Linked DNA regions of Homo sapiens: region 1 is linked to region 2. The links come from fine-mapping of genetic effects on gene expression. A gene starts in region 2. The other region holds a variant in brackets. All regions are shown on one strand. Distances are from middle to middle.

What was found. PIP is the estimated chance that this variant, and not a neighbour inherited with it, causes the effect.
Region 1: its variant is fine-mapped to the expression of FAM171A1-AS1 in spinal cord (GTEx, PIP above 0.99). The same link has a PIP of 0.9 or more in cerebellar hemisphere.

What each region holds. Positions count from the first base shown.
Region 1 is chr10:15,232,539-15,247,972 of GRCh38, reverse strand. All of the region lies in intron 5 of FAM171A1 (family with sequence similarity 171 member A1), which reads left to right. It overlaps FAM171A1-AS1 (FAM171A1 antisense RNA 1), which reads right to left. Exons shown (of 3, transcript XR_007062068.1): 2 at 10,309-10,454; 3 at 6,734-6,826. Among named protein-coding and RNA genes, the nearest start is that of FAM171A1-AS1, 32 kb to the right of the region's middle. The variant C/T (reference allele first, on the strand shown) is at 8,312.
Region 2 is chr10:15,200,280-15,215,713 of GRCh38, reverse strand. FAM171A1-AS1 (FAM171A1 antisense RNA 1) reads right to left here and starts at 7,127. Exons shown (of 3, transcript XR_007062068.1): 1 at 7,043-7,127. FAM171A1 (family with sequence similarity 171 member A1) reads left to right here. Exons shown (of 8, transcript NM_001010924.2): 8 at 1,113-4,071. The coding sequence ends at 2,799. It overlaps LOC105376434 (a long non-coding RNA gene), which reads left to right and starts at 8,314. Exons shown (of 4, transcript XR_930699.2): 1 at 8,314-8,338. LOC107984211 (a long non-coding RNA gene) reads left to right here and starts at 4,377. Exons shown (of 3, transcript XR_001747379.2): 1 at 4,377-5,421; 2 at 5,516-5,698; 3 at 6,515-7,457. RefSeq lists a silencer at 5,599-5,648 and an enhancer at 14,145-15,344.

The DNA.
Region 1 (15,434 bases), 32 kb before region 2:
CTGTGGTCCTCTCCAGCAGTGTTCAGCTGGGGCTAATGAGTGTGACTCACAGGGCTGAAGGCAGACCTCACTTCCTTGCCGGCTGTTGACCAGAGGCCTTACCTCCTTACCACGTGGGACCCTCCATAGAGCTGCTTACTACACGGTAGTTTGCTTTCCCCTGAGCAAATGATCCAAGAGTAAATAAAAATGATATAGTAGGCTGGGTGTGGTGGCTGACACCTGTAATCCCAGCACTTTGGGAGGCTGAGGCGGGTGGTTCACTTGAGGCCAAGAGTCTGAGACCAGCCTTTTAAAAGCCCAAGTGCCCAGATTGAGGTCATGGTCTTTTGTAACCTAATCCCAAAAGCAGCATACCATCATTTCTTTCCATTAGGCTGTTGGTCACACAGACCCACACTGGTATAGACCAGCACTGAGAGTAGACTATACAGGGGAGTGAATACCAGGAGGCAGGGGTCACTTGGGGCTGGCTATCTGAGAGGTTGCCTTCTACAAAGCATATTTAGCAGAAATGAGATCATGTGCTGGGTACTGTTTGGGTGCAGTGGCTCACACCTGAAATCCCAACACTTTGGGAGGCTGAGGCGGGAGGATTGCTTGAGCCCAGGAATTCAAAGTCACAGTGAGTGATGTCGCTATGATCGAGCCACTGCACCTCCTAGGCAACAGAACGAGACCACTCACTCACTCAATCAACCAATAATATATACATAAAAATACATTTGTACAGCATGAACATCTTTCCATAGCATCATTATTCTGCCATGTCAATTTTAATAAGTCCATAGTATTCCACCCTGTGGATATATCATACTTCACTTTGGTTCATCAATCCCCTGCAATTAGAAAAAAATGTTACTATTCTAACCAATGCTGTAGAAAATATCTTTCTAGCTAAATCTTTATGCACAGCCTTGGTTATTTCCTTAGGATGACATTTTAGAAGAATTGCTGAGTTACAAAATGTACAAAATTCTAAAACTTTTAAAACATATTTCCAGATTTCCCTCCAGACAGTTGTATTGGTTTGCACTCATGATACCAGCCCACGAGCATGTGCTCGGGCTGAGGGTCTTGGCAGCGTGGGGCCTCTTACCCCCCTTTGCTTCCTAGTGCCCTGAAAGTCAAGCTTGAAAATATCAATTTGCTGCTGGGCACGGTGGCTCACACCTATAATCCCAGCACTTTGGGAGGCAAGGCGGGCAGATCACTTGTGGTCAGGAGTTTGAGACCAACCTGGCCAACATGGTGAAACCCTATCTCTACTAAAAATACAAAAAATTAGCCAGCTGTGGTGGTACATGTCCATAGTCCCAGCTACTTGGGAGGCTAAGTTGGGAGGATCCCTTGAACCTGGGAGGCAGAGGTTGCAGTGAGCCAAGATCGCATCACTGCACTCCAGCCTGGATGACAGAGCAAGACTGTCTCGAAAAAAGAAAATACCAGTTTTCAAATAAGCCAGTTCAGAATTTAAAACTGTTAGACCATGCATGAAGATAATTGGGAGATTTTTGATATCAGTATATTTTCAAAGATATCTAATTCCTCGAATCAGTTAAAACAGAGTTCTAGGAATTATATTTTAAAAGAAACGCCTGTTGGGCTTTTGGAGGGGATTTTTGTTTTGTCTTATTTTTACTTTCCAAATAATTAATAGAGACACTGTAATTATTTGTGTGGAATGCATTGATTTTACCAGCCACAGTAAACTTGATATTGTTAAGTGGATTGTGATGCTGTCTGTTCACATATCCTGCAGTAAGCAAGACGGGCACTTCATTGATGGTGTGTGTTCTCTGAGAGCCTGATAATCTGTTCACATATCCTGCAGTAAGCGAGACGGGCACTTTATTGATGGTGTGTGTTCTCTGTGAGCCTGATAATTTGGGGGGCATCAAGGTCATGGTGGGGACCTGAGGTACACTGTGCCTCCAGGAGGGAGTAGCCTGAGGGATGTGTGACCAAGAGTCTCTGAAGAATGCCGGAATTCTAAAGGGAGGAAGAAAATGGATAAAGAAAAACACAGAGGAAGTGGGCAAGAGAATGGAAAGAGCTTTGAGTTTGTGTTTTGTTTCCTGAAAACCTGGGTTCTGCTACTTATAAAACTGTGAGTCCCACCTTGGGCAAATTACTTACCTCTATTTGCATTTGTAAGAGATATGAATATACACCCCCTTGTATGGTCTGCCTGTCCCCTGTAGCCCTCCCAGGGGGCGCTGAAGCGCACCCAGGTCAATGCACTGAGAAGCAGCGGAGAGTGTGGTTAAGAGCAGGGAGTCTGGGGGGCACAGTGGTGTGGAATGCCAGCTCTGCCACCCACTGGCTGTGTGGCCCTGGCCAAGTTACTTAGCCTTTCTGATCTAGTTTCTTCCACTGTGAAATGGCAATAATAATAGTACCCACTGTTGTTATAATGAGTGTATTAGGATTCTCTAAAGAAACAGAGCCAATAGGAGATATATGTATATTTGGAGAGATTGATTTTAAGGAATGGCTCACACAATTGGGAAGGCTGGCAAGTCCAAAATTGCAAGGCAGGCTGATGAGATGAGGCCCTCCCTCACTGTGGAGAGTGATCTGCTTCACTCAAAGTCAACAGATTGGGCCGGGCACCATGGCTCATGCCTGTAATACCAGCACTTTGGGAGGCCAAGACAGGCAGATCACCTGAGGTCAAGAGTTTGAGACCAGCCTAGCCAATATGGTGAAACCCCATCTTTACTAAAAATACAAAAAATTAGCTGGGCGTGGTGGTGCATGCCTATAATCCCAGCTACGCCAGAGGCTGAGGCAGGAGAATCACTTAAACCCAGGATGTGGAGGTTGAGGTGGGCCAAGATAGCGTCCCCACACTCCAGCTTGGATGACAGAGTGAGACACCGTCTCAAAAAATAAATAAATAAATAAGAAAAAAAAAAGCAAAGTCAACTGGCTGAACAGTTTATCTCTTCTAAACAAAATACCTCCCCAGTCACATCTGGACATATTTAACCACATTTCTGGGGACTGTGGCCTAGCCATGTTGTCAGACAAAATTAGTCATCACAAAAGTAAATGACAGCTTGTCACTTTCACGAGCACAGCCGATCCTTTCCAGTCTCCTCCCCGGCCTCATCCTGAGCACATTGTGCACGTTGCAATGGTCCTATCAGCTTGAACGGCACGGTATGCGGGTGCCAGTTACTCCCTGTGCCCTCCCTGAGTCTGTGCGGGGACCTGTTACTCCCTGCACCCTCACCGAGTCTGTGCAGGTACCAGCCACTCCCTGCACCTTCACCAAGTCTGTGTGGGTACCAGTTACTCCCTATGCCCTCACCAAGTCTATTTATTCTGAATGCTTGTGATCAATAACAGTTTCTGGCATAATGCTAGGTACCCAACTAAAATGTCTGTTGAATGGTTGAATCACATGAGAATAATTTTAGGGTTTTTTGTTTTCTTTTGTTTTTAAGAGACAGGGTCTCCCTCTGTCACCCAGGCTAGAGTGCAATGGTGTGATCATAGCTCACTACAGTCTCTATCTCAAGAGCTGAAGCAATCCTCCCACCTCAGCCCCCTGAAGAACTGGGAGTACAAGGGTGGTCACCAGGCCTAGCTAATTTGGGGGGCTTTTTTGAGACGGAGTCTCACTCTGTCGCCCAAGCTGGCGTGCTGTGGCAAGATCTCAGCTCACTACAACCTCCGCCTCCCAGGTTCAAGTGATTCTAGTGCCTCAGCCTCCCAAGTAGCTGGGATTACAGGTGCCCACCACCACCCCAGGCTAATTTTTGTATTTTTTTAGTAAAGATGGGGTTTCACTATGTTGCCTAGGTGGTCTCGAACTCCTGAGCTCAAGTGATCCACCCACCTCAGCTTCCCACAGTCGTGGGATGACAGGCGTGAGCTACCATGTCTAGCCAATTTAGATATCTTTAAAAGGCAATTTAAGATACTCTGATATGCCTGTAATCCCAGCACTTTGGGAGGCCAAGGTGGGCAGATCACGAGGTTAGGAGATCAAGACCATCCTGGCTAACACGGTGAAACCTCGTCTCTACTAAAAATACAAAAAATTAGCCGGGTGTGGTGGCGGGCGCCTGTAGTCCCAGCTACTCAGGAGGCTGAGACAGGAGAATGGCGTAAGTAAACCCGGGAGGCAGAGCTTGCGGTGAGCTGCTCAGTCAATGTATACATTGACTGTATACATAGAATTTACCTTTATGTATATATGTATATGTACACGTTATAAAAGGATGATGTTTAAGCTCTTGTTTAGAGGGAGGACAGTTCTATTGGATTTTTTTTCTATCTTGGAGCCTCCATCCCTGCTGTTTATTTTTTGCTTCTCATTTTTGCCTTCTCTTTTTTAATGAGTATATTTGAATATGGAGGAATAAGGCTGGGGCTCCTAATATAAGGAAGCCTTCCCTAGGGATTCCTGTATGGGTTGTGTGCACTGTAACTATATGGCACAGGTGTATGAAAGCAGCATCCTTGCTTTCCTCGGTGGACTTTATATACAGTTCACAAATAACAAACTTAAAGAAGTTTTTGATGTCCATGGCAGATGGAACTATCTCTGCATCCTAATCTCCAGGCCCTGTGGATATTACCTTATACGGTCAAGGGACTTGGTGGAAGTGATGAAGAATCTGGAGATGGGGTGATTCTCATGGACTTTCTGGGTGGGCCCACGGCCATCACAAGGGCCCTTATGAGCAGGATGCAAGAGGAGCCAGAATCAGATTAGGAGACGGCAGTGTGAGGATGGGAGCGCAGGCCGGAGCCATGCACTTTGGAAATGCGAGAAGGGGACCCAAGCCAAGGAATACAGGCACCCACTGGAAGCCAAAATCAGCAAGCAAGGGATTCTCCCTTCTGAGCCTCCAGGAGAAACCGGCCCTGTGGACTCCTTGACTTGAGACCAGAGAAACTGGTTTTGGACCTCTGACCTCCAGGAGTATAAGAAAGTAAATCTGTGCTGTTTTAAGACCCTATTATTTGTGGTAATGTTTTTTATAGCAGCAATAGGAAATGAATACAATACAGAAATTGGTGAAAACAGAGGTGTGTGCATTGTTAGGAAGCCTCTGAAATATAAGTTAGCCCATTCTCTGTTTCCTCTCTGAAAAAATAACCATGACAGTACATTGGGAATCTTCATTGTGAAGTTGACCTATTTCCGCTTCCTTTTTTTTTTGAGACGGAGTCCTGCACTGTCAGCCAGACTGGCATGCAGTGGTGCAGTCACAGATCACTGCAGCCTCGACCTCCCAAGCTCAAGCAATCCTCCCACCTCAGCCCCCTGAGTAGCTGGGACGACAGGCACACACCACCACACCTGGCTAATTTGTTTTATTGTTTATTTTCCGTAGACACAAGGTCTCACCATGTTGCCCGGGCTGGTCTCAAATTCCTGGCCTCAAGTGATCCATCTCAGCCTCCCAAAGAGCTGGGATTATAGGCGTGAGCCAACGCGCCCGGCCGAAATGGTCTTTTTAACTTCACATTTACTATGAAAAATGTAACTGCCAAATTCCTGGTTGTAACAGATTGCATGTATGCAGAAAAAAGCCAACGTTTGTGGATAGTCATTCAAAAATAACCAAATGAATTAAAATGTTTTCTGAAAACTTTAAGATGGACATTTCAAAGAAACCATATGTTTTTTCACTTATTATACTCAATAGAAGCCTGCATATTTCATAAGACTTTTGTTGCTATTACATTAATTGTAATATTATCTAAGTAGAAATTAAAATATTTTAGTTAAATAAAAAATCTAAAGACGGTATTAGATCAGGAAAAAAATGGGGAATGGGCCAACACATCTTAAGCACATAAAACAATTTAATAATTAGCTGCTATTTATGATTACAGTAATCGATCATCTCAAATAGTTTAATACTTTAAATTATCTATTTTTGAGGTAAATCAAAATAACTGCCAATTCCAAATTGTTTAACAGCCAGAAATGGCACAGATAGCAACTTGTGAATCTATTAATAATTTTTCATCTAAATTGGGTTTGGCCAACTGTGGCCTGAAAGCTAAGAATCATTTTTACATTTTTAAATGATTAAAGAAAAAAATCAAATGGGGGAATGTTGATCAAGGGGTACAAAGTTTTAGTTCTTCAGGATGATTAAGCTCCAGAGACTTAATGCAAAGCCTGCTAACTGTTGTTAATAGGACTGTACTGTATACTTAAAATTTACTAAGAGGGTGGATTCAAAGTGTTCTCACCACCAAGAGAAAGAAGATGAAAAAACAATGGTAACTGTAAAGTGATGGATATGTTAATTAGCTTGATGTATATATCAAAACATCAGGTCAGACATCTTAAGTACATAAAATTTTTGTTTTTCAACTGTACGTCAATAAATATGGGGGAAATGAATCAAAAGGAGAATATCTCATGGGTCGAAAATTACATGAAATTTATACGTAAGCATCCCTAAATAAAGTTTCACTGGAACCTTGCCAGGCCCATCTGCTGGCATATTGTCTGTGAGTGCTTTTGCACTACAACGCAGGGTTGAATCATTGCAACAGAAACTTATATCCCCACAAACCAAAAATATTTACTATCTGTCCTCTTACAGAAAAAAATAAAAAAATTTAAAAAAAATTGTGACCTCTGGTCTAAATGCCTTCCAGAAGTTCTTTCCATTCTAATATTACAGTGCCAGTGTATTCCACACTCTACAGGAGCAAACTGGGGTGCCCAGACAGCCCCAATGTCCATATTTCCTGTTAGCTGACAGCTCCCCTGTATTTTGCCAGAGTTGACAACTGATACTCAGAGTGACAGCACCTTCATTGTAGGGCCAGACCTCAAACTCTGTAAAGAAAGATGAAATTATTTTATGGTTTGATGGGACTTCTGTTCAAATGATACAATCACATGGTAGTTTTTGTTTGTTTGTGTTTGTTTGTTTGTTTGTTTGTTTGTTTAAAGAAGGGGTCCTGCTCTGTCACCCAGGCTGCAGTGCAATGGTACAATCGGAGCTAGAACTCCTGGGCTCAGGAGATCCTCCTACCTCAGCTTCCTGAGTAGCTGGTACGACAGGTGTGTGCCAGCATGCCCAGCTAATTTGTAAATTTTTTTTTTGTAGAGATAGGGTCTTGCTGTGTTGCCCAGACTGGTCTCAGACTCCTGCCCTCAAGTGATCCTCCCAACTCAGCCTCCCAAGTCACTGGGATTACAACGACTGTGAGCCACCACCCTGCCTCAAAATCACGTTTTAACACTAACTCAGTATATCCATGTTTTAACTCTAACTCACACACTTTAATCCTTGACTGCCAGGAAATTGAAAGTTTACTCTTAGGAGAGAGAACTAGAGATGCTCTCTTTCAAACCCCGTGAGAGTGGGATCAATTTTTGATGCTGCCGTTTTTCACAGTTGTCTTTTAATTTTTTTCTTTTGGAACAAGCAAAGAATTTCCCATTCTTGAAATTGGCATCTTCATATTTCAACCTATATATTCATTAGAAGGTGATCAACTAGATTAACACCATCTTAGAATACAAATAACATTGAATTTGTTTAGCATGTTACAACAGCATGAGTTGGCTAATTGCTATATGGACCCTCAATAAAAATAATTTTATGTGTGTGTGTGTGAGATGGTGTCTCGCTCTGTCACCCAGGCTGGAGTACAGTAGCACAATCTCAGCTCACCGCAACCTCTGCCTCCTGGGTTCAAGTGATTCTCTGGCCTCAGCCTCCCAGCTAGCTGGGACTACAGGTGTGTGCCACCACACCAGGCTAATTTTTGTATTTTTAGTAGAGATGGGGTTTCACCATGTTGACCAGGCTGGTCTCGAACTCCCGACCTCAAGTGATCCGCCTCTGCCTCGGCCTCCCAAAGTGCTGGGATTACAGGCATGAGCTACCACGCCCAGCCTAAAATAAATTTTTTAAGAAGCACGACTTGCATATATAAGTTGAGCATCTCAAATCCAAAAATCCAAGGTTTGAAATGCCCCAAAATCCAAAACTTTTTAAGGTCCATCATGATACTCAAAGGTCATGCCCAAAGGCAATGCTCACTGGAGCATTTTGGATTTTGGATTTTCAGATTAAGTATGTTCAGCAGGTAAGTATAATGCAAATATTCCAAAATCCAAAACACTTCTGGTCCCAAGCATCTTGGATAAAGGATATTCCACCCATACTGGAATCGAGACTTTTGTCACATTGACATGTTTTGTTAAAGCTATTTTGTTAAAATGCTGTGATTCGTAGAGCGAAGGAGCACTCTATTTAGTGGATCTCTTTTCCTTAAAGAATCAGCGGAATATGTAATGATCCAATTGTGC[C/T]CTCTCTGTGTCCCGGGTGTCAAGATGTATGTGAGGGGAATGGGTTAAAATGAATTTGTAGCCAGGCACAGTGGCTTACACCTGTAATCCCAGCACTTTGGGAGGCCAAGGTGGGCAGATCACTTGAGGTCAAGAGTTTGAGGCCAGCCTGGTCAACATAGTGAAACCCCATCTCTACTAAAAATACAAAAATTAGCTGGAGCCGGGTGTGGTGGTGGGTGCCTCTAATCCCAGCTTCTTGGGAGGCTGAGAATCCCTTGAACCTGGGAAGTGGAGGTTGCAGTGAGCCAGGATTGTACCATTGCACTCCAGCCTGGGCGACAGAGTGAGACTGTCTCAAAAAAAAATAAAAATAAAAATAAATAAATAAATAAAGTGAATATTTATTGTGCAGTGGCCAATTTGACCTTTGAAAGAAGCAGTTTTCCTTCCCATGTCTGTCAAAGGAAGTTTTGTTAGTCATAGCGAATGCCTCTTAGCTGAGCCTTTCTGGACAGTAAGAGATGATTATGTCAGCTCTATTTTACAGACGTTTACCCTTTCTTTATCCTGTAACTGGGGCAGCAGATGGCTGTCTGATGTACAGGTTGTCAGACGGACATCTGACTTGTTGCCCTGGGGAATGGTCACAGGCAAACCAGGTCAGTGGTTTGAATTTAAAGCGATGGACATCAAGTGGCAAAAAGAATAAATAAAGATTTACGGATCCTGTATTTGATAAGTTTCTCCTGTTTAATGGCAACCTGGATTATATGATTTGGATACTCTCATTCTAATGAGATGATAGAAATAAAAGCATATTCTAAGAGTGAAGCTACATTGTAGAATCCAGTTTTCACTGCCTCTTCAAAACACAGCCTGAGAGTGTGTGGGGGTTGCTATAGAAATGGTGGTTACTGAACCAGCCTCTTACCACGTACGATGCATTCGTGTCAGGCTCTCAGGAATACCCACTCACAATTGGCCTGTAGTAGATTCGTCTGCACTTCAGACGGTGAATGTTACGGCTATGACAAGCTCATTTAATTAGTCCTTTTACCTAAGTGACGGACAACTTGCCCTTGAAGGTGGAGACTCATTTAAAACACAGATCTAAGATTGTTTTTCAGGTTCATTGGGTTTTTAATTGGGGGTGGGGGGGAAGGGCGGCAAAGAGTGGGAGTTCTTAAAGCACAAAATTATGTTTACAACGTAAAGAAAATGAAACTATTATTGAACATGGAAATGATGAGCTTTGGGTGATAATGTCATGTGAATGCAGGCTCATCAATTGTAGCGAAGGCACCTCTCTGGTAGGGGATATTGATCAAGAGGGAGTCTGGGCTGTATGTGGGATATCTGCACCTTCCTTTCAGTTTTGCCGCGAACCTAAATCTGCTCTTTAAAAAATAGTCTTCAGTGAAATCATTATTACAATATTAGCTTATCTTTGTCTCTATATATCACAAGCCACATGACTAGGTGAAGTAACCCAGATTGGAATACTGAGGTGGGTGATTGGATTATAGGGATAAACAGTACTACACTGTGCCCCCAAACATTAGAATGAAAGAAGGGAGTTCATTTCTTTACCAAGTCTGTGCGTAGATGTGTGACGTGATTTTAGAACCTTGGGCATCATCTTTTATTTTTTGAAAAAGAATAGATGCCGTAGTTCAGGGCATTCAGCAAAGGAGGAATTCAACTTACCTAAGGTAATATCAACATATCCCTAAGAAAGCTGTTATTGGAAATAGGCCTTTTTACAGTGGAAATATTCAGAGTCAAGGCTATGGCTTAGAAATAAAGAAATAACTCTCAGGAAAAGTGTCTGTACTTTCCCAGATGTCAAAATCACTCTTAGGGGTGAATGGGGCTTTAATGAGACCGGTAGGGGAAAAGGGGGTAATGTACCTGCAAAAAAAAAAAGCGATTGAAGTGATCACAGATAGCAAAGAACCCGGAGAGCATGGGACTTGTTTGGGTGTGATGACAGTTCAGTGAAAACTTTGTCTCACCAAAGATCTTGGCAGCCAGGCGGTCAGTTGTGACTTTTCATGGAGATGCCAGTTGGTGTCTGTTGCCACTGTGGACTCAGCATCGCAGTGGCTCTGTACCACTCCTGTTCTCCAATGGAGTGCAGGAAGGCCGGGTAGCACTGGTCCTGCCCATGGGAGAACAACCAAGCTGTGATCTCAGAACATCGACATTTGTTTTTCAGTGTTGCCTAGCAACTCAAAAAACAATCTTGTATTATCAATCCATTCCTAGGAATCATTAAGCCTTTTGTGTTTGTCTCCCCCCAAAATGAGAACTTTCATAAAATAATAGCATCACATTTGTTCTAGTATGATCGGGTTCAGGGGGCACTTTTGTTTAAAAACCCCATTCTTAGGGACTTAGGTCTCTTAACGTATCATTTTATGTAGAACTAGAATTTCCCGTCTTGGTATAGCCTGCTTTTGTGATCTTGGAGTTGTAGAGGTTTTATTTTACACTTCATTCTTAGTTACCACTTATGGAGTATTCACTTTGTGGATTATCTGTGGCAAATTTGTGTCTTCCTGCGGGCTTTCCCCATCACCCAGGAGCCTCAAGGCCCTCTTAGTTTGCTGCTATTTGGCCTGGATTTTCTTTTTCAAGTCAGAGTCTCACTCTGCCTCCCAGGTTCAAGCGGTTCTCCTGCCTCAGCCTCCCAAGTAGCTAGGACTACAGGCAAGTGCCACCACACCCAGCATATTTTTGTATTTTTAGTGGAGATGGGGGTATCACCATGTTGGCCAGCGTGGTCTCAAACTTCTGGCCTCAAGTGATCCTCCTGCCTCAGCCTCCCAAAGTGCTGGGATTACAGGCAGTGAGCCACCACGCCCAGTCTGGCCTGGATTTTAAGGACAGCATCTAACACAATCATTCTAATATTAACCTGGGTGAAAAAGAACTAGGAAAGTAAAGCCACTATATTTCAGAATTCAGTACTTTTAAGTATCACCTGGTTTCAGTTGCCTCCACTTGAGTGGGTAATTAGAAGGTAGAATATTATTGATAGATGTGAATATTGCACTGGATGAGACACAGCTGATAGCATTCGTGAACAGGATAGAGGCAGTGTGCAGCCCAGCCACCGAGACGGCTTGGTCTTGAATGCCGGCTCCTCCTCTGGTGACTCGTTGTGTGGTCTTGAGCAAGTCCTTTTTCGTCTCTGGGCTTCAGTTTTCTCCTCTATAAAATGGGGATCATAATAGCCCCAGCCCCTCCCTCATAGAATTGCTGTGAGTGGAGAGTGCCTACCACAGAGCCTGGCGCTTGGAAAACCCTCCGTATGTGTTTGCCGCTCTTATCATCATCATCGCTGCTATTATTTAGCCCATATGCAGTGTGTGATTTTTTTTTTTTTTTTGGAAGCATGATATAAAAGGACAGGTACAGGAAAGCCTTACTGTTTTTAAATTTAACATCCCAGTCTCACCCAAGGTTGCTATTTAGCTGGAATGGCCCTGCCATCCAGTCTGATTGGTCGGGGCCCATACCTGACCAGCTGTTCCATATTTGGAAACATCATTGTTTGGGATTGAACTTCCAAATAACTTTAAAGTTCACAATAAGTGGTGCCTTTTAATTTGGGTACAGCAGGAACGTAAGTCTCTGATGTCCAAAGCGAGTGTTCGTCTAGTGTGTGAGCCTAATGTGCTCCCTGGCTCTGCTCACTCCTATCTCCTGGCTGAACACCGTGGCTCTTTCCAGCAACCTGTGTTATCCTCACCTTGTAGGTGAGGACCCCGAGGATGGGTACTGGGGAGAGATGAAGGTTCCAGGTATCCAAGGTTTCCCCAGTGAGATTCAGCGTTTCCCACTGAAGCCTGTAGATCCAGACCGCTTCTTTGAGGCCTGGGAATCATCTGCAAGGATTTTCAAATTTGGAGTTTGGGGTTTGATCATGATCTTTTACAACTTAACATGAAAATATTCTGCATCATCTGAATTCAATACAGAATTTAAAACGATCACATAATGTTATTGCCTGAGTCTGCATTTATGAACACACTGTTGGATAGAATAGGACAAATGAGAATGAACCATGGTAAATGTAATATACAAATGATACAACACCAGCATAATAAGGACAGGTGGAATTAAAGTATGTTGAGAGATGGGAAGTTTTACAGTTCAGTTTGAGAAAGGTAGTGGAAGAATTGAATCATAGTCATGCCAAGCTCGAAAGAAGCCCCACCTAGCCATGGATGTCATGTGTATGTATGTTGCAAGTGACAAGTTCAGTTCAGTAATATTGAGGCAGGAGAATTGGGTCTGAAGGTAGAGAACCTAAGGCCGACTCAGCTGACTGGATATCAGAGGTTTTTTTTTTTTTTTTTTTTTTTTTTTTGAGACAGAGTCTCGCTCTGTCTCCCAGGCTGGAGTGCAGTGGCGCAATCTCGGCCCACTGCAACCTCTGCCTCCCAGGTTCAAGCGATTCTCCTGTCTCAGCCTCCCAAGTAGCTGGTATTGTAGGCGCCTGCCCAGCTAATTTTTGTATTTTTAGTAGAGACGAGGTTTGGCCATATTGGCCAGGCCGATCTCAAACTCCTGTCCTCAGGTAATCGGCCCTCCTGGACCTCCCAAAGTGCAGAGATTACAGGCGTGAGACACCACGCCCGGCATAGGGGCTACTTTTTAACCCCTCCTTTTTCTGCCTGGCAGTTGGAAAATGAAAAGTACCTCTGATCGGCCCGGCACGGTGGCTCACGCCTGTAATCCCAGCACTCTGGGGGGCCGAGGCAGGCGGATCACGAGGTCAGGAGATCGAGACCATCCTGGCTAACACAGTGAAACCCCGTCTCTACTAAAAATACAAAAAATAAATAAAAATTAGCCGGGCGTGGTGGTGGGTGCCTGTAGTCCCAGCTACTCGGGAGGCAGAGGCAAGAGAATGGCGTGAACCCCAGAGGCAGAGCTTGCAGTGAGCCAAGATCGCGCCACTGCACTTCAGCCTGGGCGACAGAGCAAGACTCCGTCTCAAAAAAAAAAAAAGAAAAGTACATCTGATCGGTCCCCTCCTGCAGCCAATCAGACTGGTCGCTAGGCTACTTTTCCCCTCCCGTAACCAAAGAGACTGCTCATGGGCTACTAGAGTGAGCCAATACGAAACTGCTATAGGGTATTTAAACCTCAGAACATTCTGTAACCAATGTTCCCGAGCCTCTTGCTGTAGCCTCTGCCAGTCTGTGGAGTGTACTCTCGTTTAAAATAAATTTCTGCTTTGGCTGCTTTGCTTGTGCGTTTTGTCCAATTCTTTGTTCAAAACGCCAAGAACCTGGGCAGCTACCCTCAACGGGTAACAATATGTCATCAGGTACACCATTAAGTTGATGTTTTTAATTCGAAATTTATTTTGAAACTGTAGCTTTGTTTCTTGTTTCTTTCGTAAGTTTGTTTTGGTTTTATACTTTTGTATGAGCTATAATCTCTTTTATGTTAGCACTCACTTAACACATGATTTTTTAAAAGAAGATCAACACTTTGTATGTTTTTTTTTTCCTTTCGAATGTAGTTTTGTGCCTTCATCACGCCTGAAACTTCTCAAGTTCTGTAAATGTTAGGAGAGGGCCCGTCCTTGGGCAAATTACTAATGTCTCTGGACCTAATGCTTCTGGCCTCAAATATGAGATCTGTAAAATCTCCCTTCCAAGGTTGCATAAGACCTAAGTGTGATCATTTACGTAAAGCACCTAGTACACTCCAGCCATGTATCACATTTTTGATGTCGTGGTTCTTTTTTTTTTTTGGTGAGACGGAGTCTTGCTCTGTCACCAGGCTGGAGTGCAGTGGCACTATCTCAGCTCACTGCAACCTCTGACTCCCTGGTTCAAGCGATTCTCCTGCCTCAGCCTCCCGAATAGCTGGGATTATAGGCATGTGCCACCATGCCCAGCTACTTTTTGTATTTTTAGTAGAGATGGGGTTTCACCACATTGGCCACGATGGTCTCCATCTCCTGACCTCATGATCCACCCACCTCGGCCTCCCAAAGTGCTGGGATTACAGGCGTGAGCCACCACACCAGGCCATCGTGGTTCTTTTTGCCCCTTCCTTTGAATCACCCCTTTAAAATTATTTTTACGCACACACATGCACACACACACACACACACACACACACACACACACCCTGAATACACCCGGCATGTGCAGAATGTCCTTCACTAGAAGCTTCCACAGAAGTGTCTGGCTTGTCCCTGCAGTACGCCATGTACACGTATTTGTATCTGGCAGCCCAGCCATTTCCAGTATGCAGTTTGAAGTTTTCCTAAACTGAAGGGGAAGAAAAATGGGATCACAACTTAGATCCTTTAGGGAAAAAAAATGTTTTTTTGTTTTTGTTTTTGTTTTTTTTTGAGACGGAGTCTTGCTCTGTCACCCAGGCTGGAGTGTAGTGGTGTGATCTCCACTCACTGCAAGCTCCGCCTCCCGGGTTCACACCATTTTCCTGCCTCAGCCTCCTGAGTAGCTGGGACTACAGGCACCGGCCACCACGCCAAGCTAATTTTTTGTATTTTTTAGTAGAAACGGGGTTTCACCGTGTTAGCCAGGATGGTCTCGATCTCCTGACCTCGTGATCTGCCTGCCTCAGCCTCCCAAAGTGCTGGGATTACAGGCGTGAGCCACTGCCCCTGGCCTGAAAAAACAATGTTTTTATCTATTCATTCTTAGCTGAGCTTATCCATTAGAAAAACAGGTATTCCTATAAACCAACATTTTACACCATTATTCCCAAAGCAACCCTGGAGGTGGGGGACTCCCGTCTTTATCAGAAAGGAACTTTAGCTCAGTAGAGTTGAGTGTTTCCCACACTCATGGGACATCCTAGGGAAGGGGGAGACACAAAACGTGATTTCTTCAGACTCCAAATCCCCTTTCCCAGTTTATCAGATTTTTGTGGATTCCCGCTTCAATGCCAAGACTTAATGTGGCTGAATAGAATGATGGGCTGATCTGGGAATGCAGAACAACCACCTGTTTCCAGATGTATTTTGTTTGGTCCATACAGTTCGTTTGGGGATATTTGTTTGCTGTGTTTGAATTTACCGCCAACATTAAAAAATGGGAAGATTTCCCATGGAATTCTATTCCTGGCTTCACTTAGGGAAAAA
Region 2 (15,434 bases):
GATTAAGAGATGATACTCTGAAGGGCAAAGCAGAACTCTTCTTATTTGGGCCAGGGACGTTGGCTCACACCTGTAATCCCAGCACTTTAGGAGGCCGAGGTGGGCGGATCACTTGAGGTCAGAAGTTCGAGACCAGCCTAGCCAACGTGGTGAAACTCCGTTTCTACCAAAAATACAAAAATTAGCTGGGCATGGTGGCACACGCCTATAATCCCAGCTACTTGGGAGGCTGAGGCAGGAGAATTGCTTGGACCCAGAAGGTGGAGGTTGCAGTGAGCCAAGATTGCACCACTGTACTCCAGCCTGGGCAACAGAGCAAGACTCCATCTCAAAAAAAAAAATTATTCTTATTTAGATGCCGTGTCTGTTTAGTTTGCAAGAATATTTATTGTCAACTCTTGAGTAACCCCTTTGAAATAAGTAACTTGGCTTATAAAAGCCTTTAAGTTTAGCTGTTTTAAAAAGGCATTATAGAGGAAAAATTTTATTTTTAAAAATGCAAAGCATTTTAGTCACGTTTGAGACTCTTTAATAAGTTGTTGACTTTTTTAAGTCATAGAAAAATGAATGTCATACATTTAATTCATTTAGGCAAAGGGCTCTCCAGACAGTAAAAGATGAAATCTCTCGATTATCCTACTCTAATAAGGATAAAATAAGGATAAGGGCCAGGCATGGAGGCCTAGCACTTTGGGAGGCTGAAGGGGGAGGATTGCTTGAGGCCAGGAGTTTAAGACCAGCCTGGGCAACACAGGCCATCTCTACAAAAAAACTAAAAGTCAAAAATTAGCTGGGCATGGTGGCATGTGCCTGCGGTGCCAGCTGCTCGGGAGGCTGAGGTGGGAGGATCACTTGAGCCCATGAGGTCAAGCCTGCAGTGAGCTATGATCATAGCACTGCACTCCAACGTGGGCGACAGAGCAAGCAAGATGCTGTCTCAAAAAAAAAAAAAAAAGACAGGGCGTGGGGTGAGAAGGCTTTTGGCTGCTCCTGACTTGTTTTGTTTTGTCTCTCCCCATGGAAATTGAGAATTAGGATTTTACCTGAAACTTGAAACTTTTTCATTGTGAGAATCACTAATCTTTGGCTTTGGATTGTGTCTTTGGGCGCAGGAGGAAGTGCTTGAAACCTCGTCAGCACCACAGAAAACTGCAGCTCCCTGCAGGACTGGAGAGTTCCAAAAGAGACCAGTCCACGTCCATGTCACACATTAACTTGCTGTTTTCACGCCGAGCGTCAGAATTCCCTGGCCCGCTGTCCGTCACCAGCCACGGCCGCCCCGAGGCCCCCGGCACGAAGGAACTGATGAGTGGAGTCCATTTGGAAATGATGTCTCCGGGCGGCGAAGGGGACCTGCACACCCCCATGCTCAAGCTCTCCTACAGCACCTCCCAGGAATTTAGCTCCCGGGAGGAGCTCCTCTCTTGCAAGGAAGAGGATAAAAGCCAGATCTCCTTTGATAACCTCACTCCAAGTGGGACGCTGGGGAAAGACTACCATAAGTCAGTGGAGGTTTTTCCCTTAAAGGCAAGAAAATCTATGGAAAGAGAAGGCTACGAGTCCTCGGGCAATGATGACTACAGGGGTAGTTACAACACCGTGCTCTCACAGCCTTTATTTGAAAAGCAGGACAGAGAAGGTCCAGCCTCCACGGGAAGCAAACTCACCATTCAGGAACATCTGTACCCCGCGCCTTCATCACCTGAGAAAGAACAGCTGCTGGACCGCAGACCCACTGAATGTATGATGTCGCGATCAGTAGATCACCTCGAGAGACCTACGTCCTTCCCACGGCCCGGCCAGTTAATCTGCTGCAGTTCTGTCGACCAGGTCAATGACAGCGTTTACAGGAAAGTACTGCCTGCCTTGGTCATCCCGGCTCATTATATGAAACTCCCCGGGGACCACTCCTATGTCAGCCAGCCCCTCGTCGTCCCGGCTGATCAGCAGCTTGAGATAGAAAGACTACAGGCTGAGCTGTCCAATCCCCATGCCGGGATCTTCCCACACCCGTCCTCACAGATCCAGCCCCAGCCCCTGTCTTCCCAGGCCATCTCTCAGCAGCACCTGCAGGATGCGGGCACCCGGGAGTGGAGCCCTCAGAACGCATCCATGTCGGAGTCTCTCTCCATCCCAGCTTCCCTGAACGACGCGGCTTTGGCTCAGATGAACAGTGAGGTGCAGCTCCTGACTGAAAAGGCCCTGATGGAGCTTGGGGGTGGGAAGCCGCTTCCGCACCCCCGGGCGTGGTTCGTCTCCTTGGATGGCAGGTCCAACGCTCACGTTAGACATTCATACATTGATCTCCAAAGAGCTGGAAGGAACGGAAGTAATGATGCCAGTTTGGACTCTGGCGTAGATATGAATGAACCAAAATCAGCCCGGAAGGGAAGGGGAGATGCTTTGTCTCTGCAGCAGAACTACCCGCCCGTCCAAGAGCACCAGCAGAAAGAGCCTCGAGCCCCAGACAGCACGGCCTACACGCAGCTCGTGTACCTGGATGACGTGGAACAGAGTGGTAGCGAATGTGGGACCACGGTCTGTACCCCCGAGGACAGTGCCCTGCGATGCTTGTTGGAGGGGTCGAGTCGGAGAAGTGGTGGCCAGCTGCCCAGCCTGCAGGAGGAGACGACCAGACGGACTGCGGATGCCCCCTCGGAGCCAGCAGCCAGCCCCCACCAGAGAAGATCTGCCCACGAGGAAGAGGAAGACGATGATGATGATGACCAAGGAGAAGACAAGAAAAGCCCCTGGCAGAAACGGGAGGAGAGGCCCCTGATGGCGTTTAACATTAAATGAGCTATCGCAGACCCACCTGACTGTGGAATATAAAATTGCCAAATATCCTTTCTCATGGAAGCGCGTACCCGTTCGTGGAGGAAACGGAACGGCAGCCCAGCCGTGGGACGGACGTGGACGTTTACTGCATTCCTGTTTGCCGTGTAAATGTTAGAAAGGAATTAAAGTTATTACTCGGAATAAAGGATGACTTTGGCGGATGTCGCCCCTGCAAGGAGGTGGCTGAAAGTGGTGTCCAGATGTCCTTCCGAGGACTCGGCGTATCCGCCACCAGGGACATTAAGAAACCGCACGTGATGTCGCTATGCTCTAACGATCACCTCAGTTCTCCCTCGGATTCTGGGAACAGATGAAACTTTTTGCATCGCTTGAGTCATTTTTATCACAATAATCCTACTGTGAAGCTGTCGTTGAGAACTTAGGTTGGCACGTAGCGTCTCAAGGTATGCGTTCTCTCAAAGGAAAGCTATGCATCGCTGCTTCGTTGTCTGATTTTGCTTAGATTTTGCTTTGGTTAGGTTGCGTTTTGGGGTTTGCCTTTTTTTGTTGTCGCTTAAATGCAATTTGGTTGTAAAGATTTGATTCCTTTGTGTTCATCTGTTCCGCTTCTCAGCGGTCCATCTCAGCGTCTCCCTTCAGGAACCGCTGAGTGTCCTCTCTTAACATCCAAGCCTTTTAATGAAATCGTACTGAAATCTGTATCAGCTAAGAGTCCTCCAATCCTGGTCCCATTAACTCCAAGTGCCTTTTTGACAGTGACAACAGACAGTCCCTCGCTTTTTGTTGTTGTTGGTTTTCTTAACCCCTTTAATGGAACTGCCTGGATTTTATACAGTTATTAAAGGATGTCTCTTTTGCTTTAAACTGCATGCTGCCAAGTGCCATTTGGGGTCAGCATCCTCGTTTCAACACAGTGTGCTCTCTAGTTATCATGTGTAACGTGGGTTCTGTTTAGCGAAGATAGACTAGAGGACACGTTAGAGATGCCCTTCCCTGCTCCATCCCTGTGGCACCATTATGGTTTTTTGGCTGTTTGTATATACGGTTACGTATTAACTCTGGAATCCTATGGGCTCATCTTGCTCACCCAATGTGGGAGTCTGGTTTGAGCAAGCGAGCTGAATGTGACTATTAAAAAAAATTTAAAAAAAAAAAAGAAAATCTTATGTACTATCCAAAAGTGCCAGAATGACTCTTCTGTGCATTCTTCTTAAAGAGCTGCTTGGTTATCCAAAAATGAAAATTCAAAATAAACTCTGAAGAAAAGGAAAACTGTCTTTGTGGTCATTTGAATTCATTCTGAGTCATTATCTGTTTCAAAGTTGTTATTAAGACTTTGTCAGGCCAAGCATGGTGACTCACACCTGTAATCCCAGCACTTTGGGAGGCCAAAGGAGGAGGATCACTTGAGCTCAGGATCACTTCAGCCCATCTCTGTGAAAAAAATTTTTTTAATTACCTGGTTATAGTGGCTCATGCCTGTAGTCCCCACTACTTGAGAGGCTGAGGTGGGAGGATGGTACTGCTGCACTCCAACCTGGGTAAGAGAGCAGATCCTGTCTCAAAAAAAAAAAAAAAAAAAAAAAAAAAAAAAAAAAAAGTCTTTGTCATTGTTTCCTTGGTGGCAGTCTGCAACGCAGTTGTCAGACTTGTATTTGGAGACCCACCACCTAGACACCTAGGAATTTCCTCTAGGGTTAAAATCTATAAAAATCCACCTTTGTCTGTAGTTTTGTTCAAGAACACCAAATAACATTTTGATGTGTTTCAGGTAAAGAGGGATGTCTGCACTTAACAAGAATCTGATGTTTTATGGTCAGTATTGATCCATCTTGGAAGAGCTTCAAGAAGATATCATTAGAATGACCAGAATCCTCCCAGATGTATAAAACTATTCATCAAAATAAAATCATTAATGGAGGTGTTGGGACATAACTGGCAGAAATAAATTAAGCCAGCTATGTTTACAGTCAACAAAATCAGTATTTGTGAATTCCATGCAGGCAAAGAACTAATCACAGTGGTTTTGATGATTTTCATTCTCAAGTGGTGGTGTTGCCTGTTTGGCTTTTAAGGGGGAAAATAGTTGAGCAAGTCCTTGACAGTGGGACAGCTAGCCAGATGGGAGCCTGGGGGCCTAAGGAGTGAGACGCCCTTTGCGCGGGAGTGGACATCTCACCAGTAAGTGGCAGGGGCATCCTTGCAGACCTGGCTAAGACTCCAGGGAGAAGGCGTTGGTCAGCTCCCCTGAAAAGAATAAGGAAGTTGCTCCTCCAGGAAAATCCAGGGCCAGACCTAGATGAGGAGGGACGAGGGAGGAAGTCCCGGAAGACCTCTCTGCTGTCATTGACCCCAGTCCTTTGCGGCTCTAAGGTTGCCGCCAATGGAATCACCTCCTTAAAACGTCAGTTTCTAGAAGAGCCTCATTTAATGCATGTTACCTGGGAAAGTCGGGTAGCACATTAACTGTAAGCGCTGATCCTGAGAGATCTGGCAGGAAGATGGGGGTGGAGAAGACTGCTTTGCTGACTCCTCCTTAGGTGAGACTCACCTGGATGGGCCCCGATGTATTAAGCAGCCAGCAGCAGTCACAGCATGCCGTGTGCCGAGGACAACAAGCAGGTGGGTTTGCAGAAGGGCAACTGGGTCGGCTGAAGATTTTTATCACATTTTAACAGTTGTCCTAACTGGGGCTCAGTGGTTCTCATTTTCTCAGGATGCCAACGCTGATCACTAGAGTGGGATTCTCTGAATGCAGCACCGTGGCCACAGACTTTACACATTTATCCTCTCTCTCCCCACGGAGGGTGGAAGGGTGAATATGTCACAGTATTCCAAATCAGTTACGTGGTCTGAAGGACGACAGCCATCAAAGGCATCTTGCTCCCGCCCCCTAGTGGTGAGTTTTCCCCACCTGTAACGGTTTAGTCCAGACACACAGGGCCACTCTGGGAAAGTAGGGGTGGGCGTGCACAGGGGTGAATCTGCCACTGGGTCTCTCCCCAAGGTGAGGTGGGTGGAGAGAAGGGGACTGAGGTTCCTGGAGTCTCTACCTGGAAACAATGTATTGGAAACAATCATTGCATTCAATCCTCAAAATCTTTCAAGGAAGGAATGTTTATTCTTCTTTGTTTTGCACTGAAGTTGAGGCTTAGTGGTTAAGTAATTGAGGTCACCCAGCTAGAAACAGTGGTGCACGGCTTAAACAGCCAGCTCTCTGGAAATGAATGCACTTAAATTATAAATGTCCCTGATAAAGGATGCATAGGACAGAACTTACAAATGGAATACATAATAATCTGTATAATGAAATACATAAGGCTGGGCGTGGCAGCTCAGGCCTGTAATCCCAGCACTTTGGGAGGCTGAGGTGAGTGGATCTCTTAAGGTCAGGAGTTCAAGACCAGCCTGGGCAACATGGTGAAACCCTGTCTCCACTAAAAATACAAAAATTAGCTGGGTGTGGTGGTGGGTGCCTGTAATCCTAGCTACTCGGGAGGCTGAGGCAGGAGAATTGCTTGAGCCCGGGAGGCAGAGGTTGCGGTGAGCCGAGATCACGCCACTGCACTCCAGCCTGGGCAACAAGAGCGAAGCTCCGTCTCAAAAAAAAAAAAAAGAAAAGAAAAGAAAAGAAAGTGTGTGCCCTAAGCTCTGCCAGGGGATACACAACATCATTTAAGTGATAGTGACCCTGTGCATTTGGAACTTTATTTAGGATAAACTAGCACAGACAAATGCAAAAACAAAGAGGCATCGCACCCAAGAAAATGAAACCAAAACCAAAAAGGAAGGAAACCAGAAAGCCACAGAATGGTACGTAGGCCACAAGCATGACAAACTCAGTGTGATTTCTTGTGTTCACCCTCTCACAGACATCGCTTATGCAGGTGTTTAGACCTAGAGGACCTCATAAAAATGAGTAAAGTTAGAAATGGGGGGTGATTTTTCAACCATATTGATATTCCACGATTTCTTGTTTGCTGCATTGACACCATAGTTAAAGCAAGTTGCAATTATGTCTTGGGGACTTTTATGACATCACAGAGAACTTGAAAAGGGCATGATGGTTGTCATGGTCCTTCAAACAGGAGAAGGCAGTGACAAGGAGAAAGGCAGTTGCTCTCATAGATCAGGGAGAAAGCCAGCTAAACTCCAGGCGAAATAGAAATTGCAAGTCTTCTCCTCCCCGCCAAAAAAAAAAAATGATTTTCAAAGCTGTAATTGTAAATATACACTAAAATACCTGGCAAATGTTTTTTCCATTCTTCGCAGCCATTGTGAGTTGTTTCAGGTTGGTATTTTGGTACCTTCAAAGTGGCTCATAATTCTCGCATTGCTAGGCTTTTGCACCTTAACAGGATGGGCAGGAATAGAAGAACCTGAAAGAGGCTTGGTGGTCTCACAGCAGAGGAAATTGAAGGCTGAAGTCACAAGTGTTGTGTTGACCTTTCCACATATGCAATGGGTGACCACACAGAGGTGGGCCTCATCTCCTGACACTCGGCCCAGTGTGCAGCCACCTCTGCATGCTGCTGCCCCATCTCACCTCACTGGCACCCTCTGCTATCTGTCTACAGTATGCATTCAGCACTCCATAATGAGGGTCTAAGGCATAAGTAAACCATGCTAATTATTAAAATCTAGGATTTGGAGAAGAAGCTCTGGGTGTCAGGCCTGGCTCTGACCAACAGACAGGTGACTCACTTCTGATGCTTTAGCAAGAGGTTGGGGGTATTTGCTCTCCTCACCTCTGGGTGAGTTGAATTCAAGTGAGACAATACATATCAAAGTTTTTGTAAGTTGTAAATTACAAAAACAGTTTATTTCTCTGAACTATTACTAGTATCTTACAGTTCCCTAATCTTGTTGCTCTAGTGTGACAATGGTCATTTTGGGGCTATATCAGCTGCTTCTCAGCTACTTTTTAAGGAAAATGGTAGACAAAACAGTGGCATCTCTTTTTCCCCATTCTATTACTTTTGTTTGTTTGTTTTTTTGAGACAGAGTCTTACTCTTTCACCCAGGCTGGAGTGCAGTGGCGCTACCTTGGCTCACTGAAACCTCTGCCTCCTGGGTTCAAGAAGTTCTCCTGCCTCTGCCTCCCTAGTAACTGGGACTACAGGCATGTACTACCATGGCTAACTTTTGTGTTTTTAGTAGAGATGGGGTTTCACCATTTTGATAGTTACTACTGAATGTCAATTTGATTGGATTGAAGGATACAAAGTATTGATCCTGGGCGTGTCTGTGAGGGTGTTGCCAAAGGAGATTAACATTTGAGTCAGTGGGCTGGGAGAGGCAGACCCACTCTTAATCTGGGTGGTCACCACCTAATCAGCTGCCAGCACAGCTAGAATACAAAGCAGGCAGAAAAATGTGAAAACAGAGACTGTCCTAGCCTCCCAGCCTCCATCTTTCTCCCGTGCTGGATGCTTCCTGCCCTCGAACATCAGGCTCCAAGTTCTTCAGTTTTGGAACTCGGACTGGCTCTCCTTGCTCCTCAGACTGCAGACGGCCTATTGTGGGACCTTATGATCATGTGAGTTAATAATAAACTCCCCTTTATATATACATATGTGTGTATATATGTATGTGCATGTGTGTGTGTGTATATATATATATTATTATATATAATATATATATTCCATTAGTTATATCCCTCTAGAGAACCCTAATACAACCATGTTGGCCAGGCAAGTCTCGAACTCCTGGCCTCAAGTAATCTGCCCACCTCGGTCTCCCAAAGTGCTGGGATTACAGGCGTGAGCCATGGTGCCCGGCCCCATCGTACTGCTTTCTGCAAGCTTCAGCTGAGTAATATCTCCTTTGCTCAAAGGGGATGTTTTGCCTGGTGTCTGAAGATAGCCAGTGAGCTCTGTGAAGGTGCAGCCTTCTTAAAGATTTGTCTGGAAACATGTGTTAGGACACTGTCTACAAGGCAATAATGTTAGGGTAAGTCCCCAATCACCATAATTTGCTACTGAAAGCAATACCTCTGTAAAACATGGCAGCCGTTCTTGAATTCTTGAATTGAGTTGCTCTATGGTAATAAGATAATGTGCATGTAACTATAGAACAGTGTTGCTCAAACCTGGGGTGTTAGGCCATTCCTGTGTTGCTGTAAAGGAATACCTGAGGCTGGGTGATTTATAAAGAAAACAGGTTTAACTGGCTATGGTTCTGCAGGCTGTACAGGAAGCATGGCACCAGCATCTACTTGGGGAGGCCTCAGGGAGTTTACAATCATGGCAGAAGGCAGAGCAGGAGCAGGCATCACACATGGCCAGAGTGGGAGCAAGAGAGGTGCCATAGTTTTAAACCAGATCTCACGTGGACTCACTCATCAGCAAGGGAACAGCACCAAGCCATTCATGAGAGGTACCCCTGTGATCCAAGCCCCTCCCACCAGGCCCACCTCCAACACTGGGGATCACATTTCAACATGAGATTTGGCGGGGACATGGATCCAAACCATGGATACATGTTAGCATCCCCTGGGAGCTGGAAAAAAAATATTAAAGCATTTGGGCCCCACCACAGACTGATTGAATTAGGATCTCTGTAGGTGAAACTGGTTTAAAAACAAAACAAACAAACAAAAACTCTCCCTAGCTGATTCTCATACACAGGCTTGTAGACCACTGCTTTAGAAACATTGAAGCTACTTTACAGCCTGGTAGCACCTTCCATTGGGTACCTCAGGGAATTATTCACTTTTCTCTTTGTTTCTGGGGTCGATTAACAGCTATACCCCAGATTTGCAGTTGGGGAAGCATTTATGTGAAATAGCATGTCAAGTTGGGCAGCAGTGCCTAACAGATTTCTCTCTTCCTGTTCACAATGGCCTGTTGAAAAACCGAAGGTGGACACACTGTGTCAACATGTCTTGGCTCTACCGTCCGTCCTCTTCCCAAGGTCCAGGTTATTCCTGCCATCTTGCCCGAGCAATTTCACATCACTGCCTGTTTGGGACTCCCACGTCCGTATCTGCATCCCAGGCCTGCCACTGAGTTCAAACTGCAGACTGAGCATCCTCAAGCACCTAAAACTCTATTTATTATCTTCATGTTGTCCCGTGAATTCCCTACTCCTCCGCAAATCAGGGAAACCAGTTCTCCTAGTTTTTGCCTATGTACTATCCCAATAAATGGCCTCACCATATAGTTTCCTTGGCCAGAAACCTCAGGGTCACCCTACAAACATCTGTCAACCTCACCCCCAAATCCAGGCAAGTTCTTTTGACTCCACTTGCTGTCAGGAAACAATATGAATTTTTTTTTTTTTTTTTTTGAGACGCAGTCTCGCTCTGTCGCCAGGCTGGAGTACAGTGGCGCGCTCCTGGCTCACTGCATCCTCCGCCTCCTGGGTTCAAGAGGTTCTTCTGCCTCAGCCTCCCAAGTAGCTGGGATTACAGGCACACGCCACCATGCCCGTCTAATTTTTGTATTTTTAGTAGAGATGGGGTTTCACCATGTTGGCCAGGCTGGTCTTGAACTCCTGACCTCGTGATCCGCCCGCCTCGGCCTCCCAAAGTGCTGGGATTACAGGTGTGAGCCACCGCGCCTGGCCAACAACATGAATGTTTTCATGTTTCTGTGTAGCTCAGTTTCCTGAGCAAAAGTTACTGGCAACCTAGTATTAAAAACTCTAGACAAATGTAACAGTTTAATTGAGCAAAGAACAATTCTCGAATCGGGCAGCCCCCTTTGTCATGCCAGACCCCTATTAATCTCAGTAGGGATGGCACCAGGTACAAGAGGCCAAAGACGAGATCCCGCACCAGCGAAGGAGACGTGGGTTTTATTGGGGGCTTACATACAGGGGAGAGAGTCCAGTGGCAGTGGGCCAAGCAGGAAAACTGCAAATCCTTGCAAAATGCATGCAGTTTAGATAGCATTTTCATTTTACACCCTCCCTCTAACAAATTCCACCTGGCAACCTTCATTTAACCCAAAACAAAGGGTCTCAATCCCCTGTACGACCTGTGTTCCATGGGCCAGGGTGGGGGATCAAATGTTTTTCATAGAAAAGGAATGGATCTCGGGGTGGGCTACTCCCAGATTCCCTAGCATGGAACTCTGAATACACATTCAGGTGTGCCCGCCCTACAGGGTCATTCTCAGAGTACGGTCAAGTTATCAGTGCCAGGTGCTCCTACCCTACTGCCTGAACCAGAATAGGCTGAGGGAGACTCCGGCACTGCCACCATGTCAGAGGCAAAGGAAAGTGACGTGAGGTCCAGAGATAGCCAAATTGCCTACTGCTTACCATTTCTCTCACTTGAAGGCAGTTTAAACAGTTGGCCCCTTTGATTGGCCAGAACTCGGTGATTGGTAAGGGCAGTTACCAGTCTGTTTGTACATCCCGTTATAGTTCCCTATGTGGGAGAAACCTTTAGGCCAAATTTACAAGGAGGCCGCTTTAGGCTAAACTTAATTTAACACTGGATTAAAGGATGAGGGAATATTAATCATTTTGGAAAACAGATCGTGAATTACTCTGGAGAGATTTGCGGGTTTATCTCTCTTGGAGCTGTGCCTTTGCATTCATTGATCTGCACTGGCATTTGCTGTAACACATAGGGCCTTCCCATTCTCTTCCCTATGACAATTTGTTTCCATTAGAAAGTTAGGATTTCTGGCTGGGCGCAGTGGCTCATGCCTGTAATCCCAACACTTTCGGAGGCCAAGGCGGGTTGATCACCTGAGGTCAGGAGTTTGAGACCAGCCTGGCCAACATGGTGAAACCCCGTTCTCTACTAAAAATACAAAAAAGGTTAGCCAGATGTTGTGGCACATGCCTGTAATCCCATCTACTCGGGAGACTGAGGCAGGAGAATCACTTGAACCTGGGAGGCAGAGGTTGCAGTGAGCTGAGATCGTGCCATTGCACTCCAGCCTGGGTGACAGAGCAAGACTGCATCTCAAAAAAAAAAAAAAAAAAAAAAACGTTAAGGTTTAGGGTTTCTCTCCAAGTCTCTAGAAGGGATGGGGGCAGCTATGATGTAGTTCCTATATAATCTCTGAAATTCATAATTTAGGGGTTTCTGTCTTTTAAATGCTATCCATTGAGGGCCCGAATGGAACAAAACAGAGAGACAGGAGTTCGCCTCCTTTTGTTTTTCTGCCTCACTGTTGAGCTGGGTGATCTCATCTCATCTTTTTTTGCCCTTGGACTGGGACTTAGCCCCATTGGCCCCCTGGTTCTCAGGCCTTCAGCCTGAGTTACACCACCAGCTTTCTTGGGTCTCAGTTTGCAAATGGCAGATCGTGGGACTTCACAAACACCATCATCTTGTAAGCCCATTCCTCCTAATCTTCTTTTATATACACACCAATTGGTTCTGTTTCTCTGGAAAACCTGATTAATAGACCTGAGGAATGAAACTGTAACCTCTCAGTGGGTTCTTCTTGCCTGCTGCCCAGATGCAGCCAATTTATCAAGGCAGGGGAATTGTAATGGAGGAAGAGTTTTACCCACATAGAGCTGGCTGAATGGGAAACCAGGGTTTTATCATTATTCATATCAGCCTCCCTGAAAATTTGGAGGCTAGGATTTTTCAAGGATAGTTTGGCAATCAAGGGAACGGGTGCTGCTGATTGGTTGGGGGTGCAATCATAGGGGTGTGGGGAATGGTCATTGTGAGCACTGAGTCTGCTTCTGGGTGTGGCCCCAGGACTGGTTGGTGGGTCCAGGTGAAGCCATTGGTCAGTCATCAGAAATGCAAAAACCTGAAAAAGGCATCTCAAAAGGGCAATCTTAAATTCTATGATACGATGCTATTTGCAGGAGTGATTGGGGAAGTTGTACATCTTGTGGCCTCCGGAACAATGGCTGGTAACCATTTCTGTCTACACCCTAGCAGAACTCAGCTTCCTATCAGTCTCCTAACCTGATTGTCTTTCATTAGCTTTACAAAGGTGCTTTAGTTTGGGGAAAGGGCTGTTATCATTGAAACTGTAAACTAAGTCTCTCCCAAAGTTAGCTTGGCCCAAACCCAGGAATAACTATGGGCAGCTTGGAAGCTAAAAGCAAAATGGGGGTTGGTTGGATCAGATCTCTTTCACTGTCATCATTTCCTGTTATAGTTTTTGCCAAGGCAGGTTCAAAACCAGGGAACCAACTGTAAAAGACAAAGTATAATAATAACTCCCTAAAGAGTTTCATTTTACACACCACTTTCATAATACATTCCTTTTTTGTTGAGACACAGTCTTGCTCTGTCACCCAGGCTGGTGGGCAGTGGCACAATCTCGGCTCACTGCAACCTCCCACGTTCAAGTGATTCTCCTGCCTCAGCCTCCCAAGTAGCTGAGACTACAGGCGTGTGCCACCATGCCTGGCTAATTTTTGTATTTTTAGTAGAGACAGAGTTTCACCACGTTGGCCGGGCTGGTCTCAATCTCCTGGCCCCAGGTGATCTGCCAGCCTCGGCCTCCCAAAGTGCTGGGATTACAGCCCCAGCGTAAGCCACCACGTGAGCCACCACGCCCGGCCTCATATTACATTATTGTGTTATGATTCTCACAGCTACCCTGCTGTATAGCTAAGGCAGGTGATGTTAATCCACACTTGCATTCAAAGACACTGAAATAAATTCTTACCAAAACAGTGGCGAAGACCCAGGATTTGCACTGAAACTCACATGCTGTGTTCAGAAGTGCAGTATTCTCTCTACCCCACACAGCTGCCTTAGAGAGATGAATTCCAGGGCTGGGAACCACGGCTAACACTTAGTACCTCCCACATTTCCAGAAGGGCTCTAAACGTGTCCTGTGGTCCTTACAGTCAACTGGTGAGGTTATTTCTTCTGTCATTTCACAGACAAATAAAGAAGCAGAGTAACTTCATTTATGAACGGTGCTCTCTGCCACTTTGCAATGCTTATTCAATAGAGCTGCTTTCATTATGGAAAGCTAAAAGCTTTGTTTCCCAGAATGCTAACCATTTTATAAACAGTATAACATAATTATAAATGTCTTCCAGAAACACAGTAATAGTAATGTTAAATGATCCTGCGAGCCTCAGAAAAATAACTTGATAGCTACTCTCCGAGGTTGGTTATTTTGGAGTCCTAGTACATTAGTCACTCTTCAAAGGCCAGAGAAGGTAAGAGAGAAGGTTAAAATGAGATCAGATGCCCAGCAGTGGGAAATTTCACATTTGAGATGATGAGACCCATAAATGGGGCATAATGATGGCAAATAAAAAATATCTACTTGGAAACAGAGAAAAGCTCAAATTGCATTGAAGATCAGTTACATTTTTCCTGGACAGAGGACAGAAAAATTTTCTTCTTTTTCTTGAGTAAGTGAAAAGGAATATAAGGTCTTTCTCAGGGATGAGGTTTGCCTTTTCTGGATTAAAGGGTAAAAGCTGAAGAGGCACATCTTCAGACAAGTAGCAATAGAGAACAGAGACAATTCTTGGCCATAGAGCATTTTTGAGGATCTCATATGAAAGATAGTCATTTTTTAAAGATGTCATTTTTCTATAATACTGCAGCTAGCTCCCCTCAGATCATCACCGGGATAAGACAGCATCAATGGATATGTTGCCCAGGCTGGTCTCAAAATCCTGGCCTCAAGCAACCTCCCACCTCAGCCTCCCAAATTGCTGGAATGACAGGTGTGAGCCACCACACCTGGCTGCAAGTTGAATTTCTTTGGATGTCTATTCTTTGTGCCTGAAACTTCAGATTGACGTACTTAGAAAATATAGGGCTGAACTGACCCCCATATAACATCTTGACTTTTTCAACCAAACTTTAATTATTTCAACTGAATAATTTAAAAAAAAATTTTACCCTTGGTGACAGCTGTCAAATGATGGAATATCTTGTGTGAATTAGAATCTCTTGATTTTCAGGAATACCATCATAATAACAATGATGTTGTGATTTTTTTAACTTGAGAATGACCTTTGGAATAATTAAAAAATGCCTTGGTATGACTCAATCCTTTTCCTCCCTCTGTCCTCTGAGGCTTTACCACTGACCTGGAATTCAGGATTCCAGAAATCCTTGGTGAATGAAGTCACCACATTCTTTGTGAAATTATTCACAAGTGTGATCATTATCAGTTATCTGTTTCCTTTGATAAGGTTACTCCCAATTGTTTCAATGTGTGACTCTATAGATAAAATCGTATTATAGTTTTGTTATGATTCATATCGCTAGTATGCTGATAGTCTAGATAATAACAGAGTGATGATATTGTTGTGGCTTCTTTATTCCAAGTAATATCAAGCCCCAATAAAAAAGTTTGGTTTTTCTTTTCTGAGACAGGGTCTGGCTCTGTCACCCAGGCTGGAGGGCAGGGGAGTGATCACAGCTCACTGCACCCTCAAACTCCTGGGCTCAGGTAATCCTCCTGCATCAACCCCCCAAGTATCTGAGACCACAGATGCATGCCATACCAGTCGGCTAATTTTTATTTTATTTTTATTTTTCGTAGAGATGGAGCTTCACATGGTTGCCCAGGCTGCTGTAGAACTTCTGGCCTCAAAAGATCTTCCTGCCTCAGTCTCCCAAAGTGCTAGGATTAAAGGTGTGAGCCACTGCACTTGGCCAATAAAAGTTTTGAAGATGTGAATAGGAAATTCACCAGGAGCTTCCTGTTCACCTCCTTGCTTCA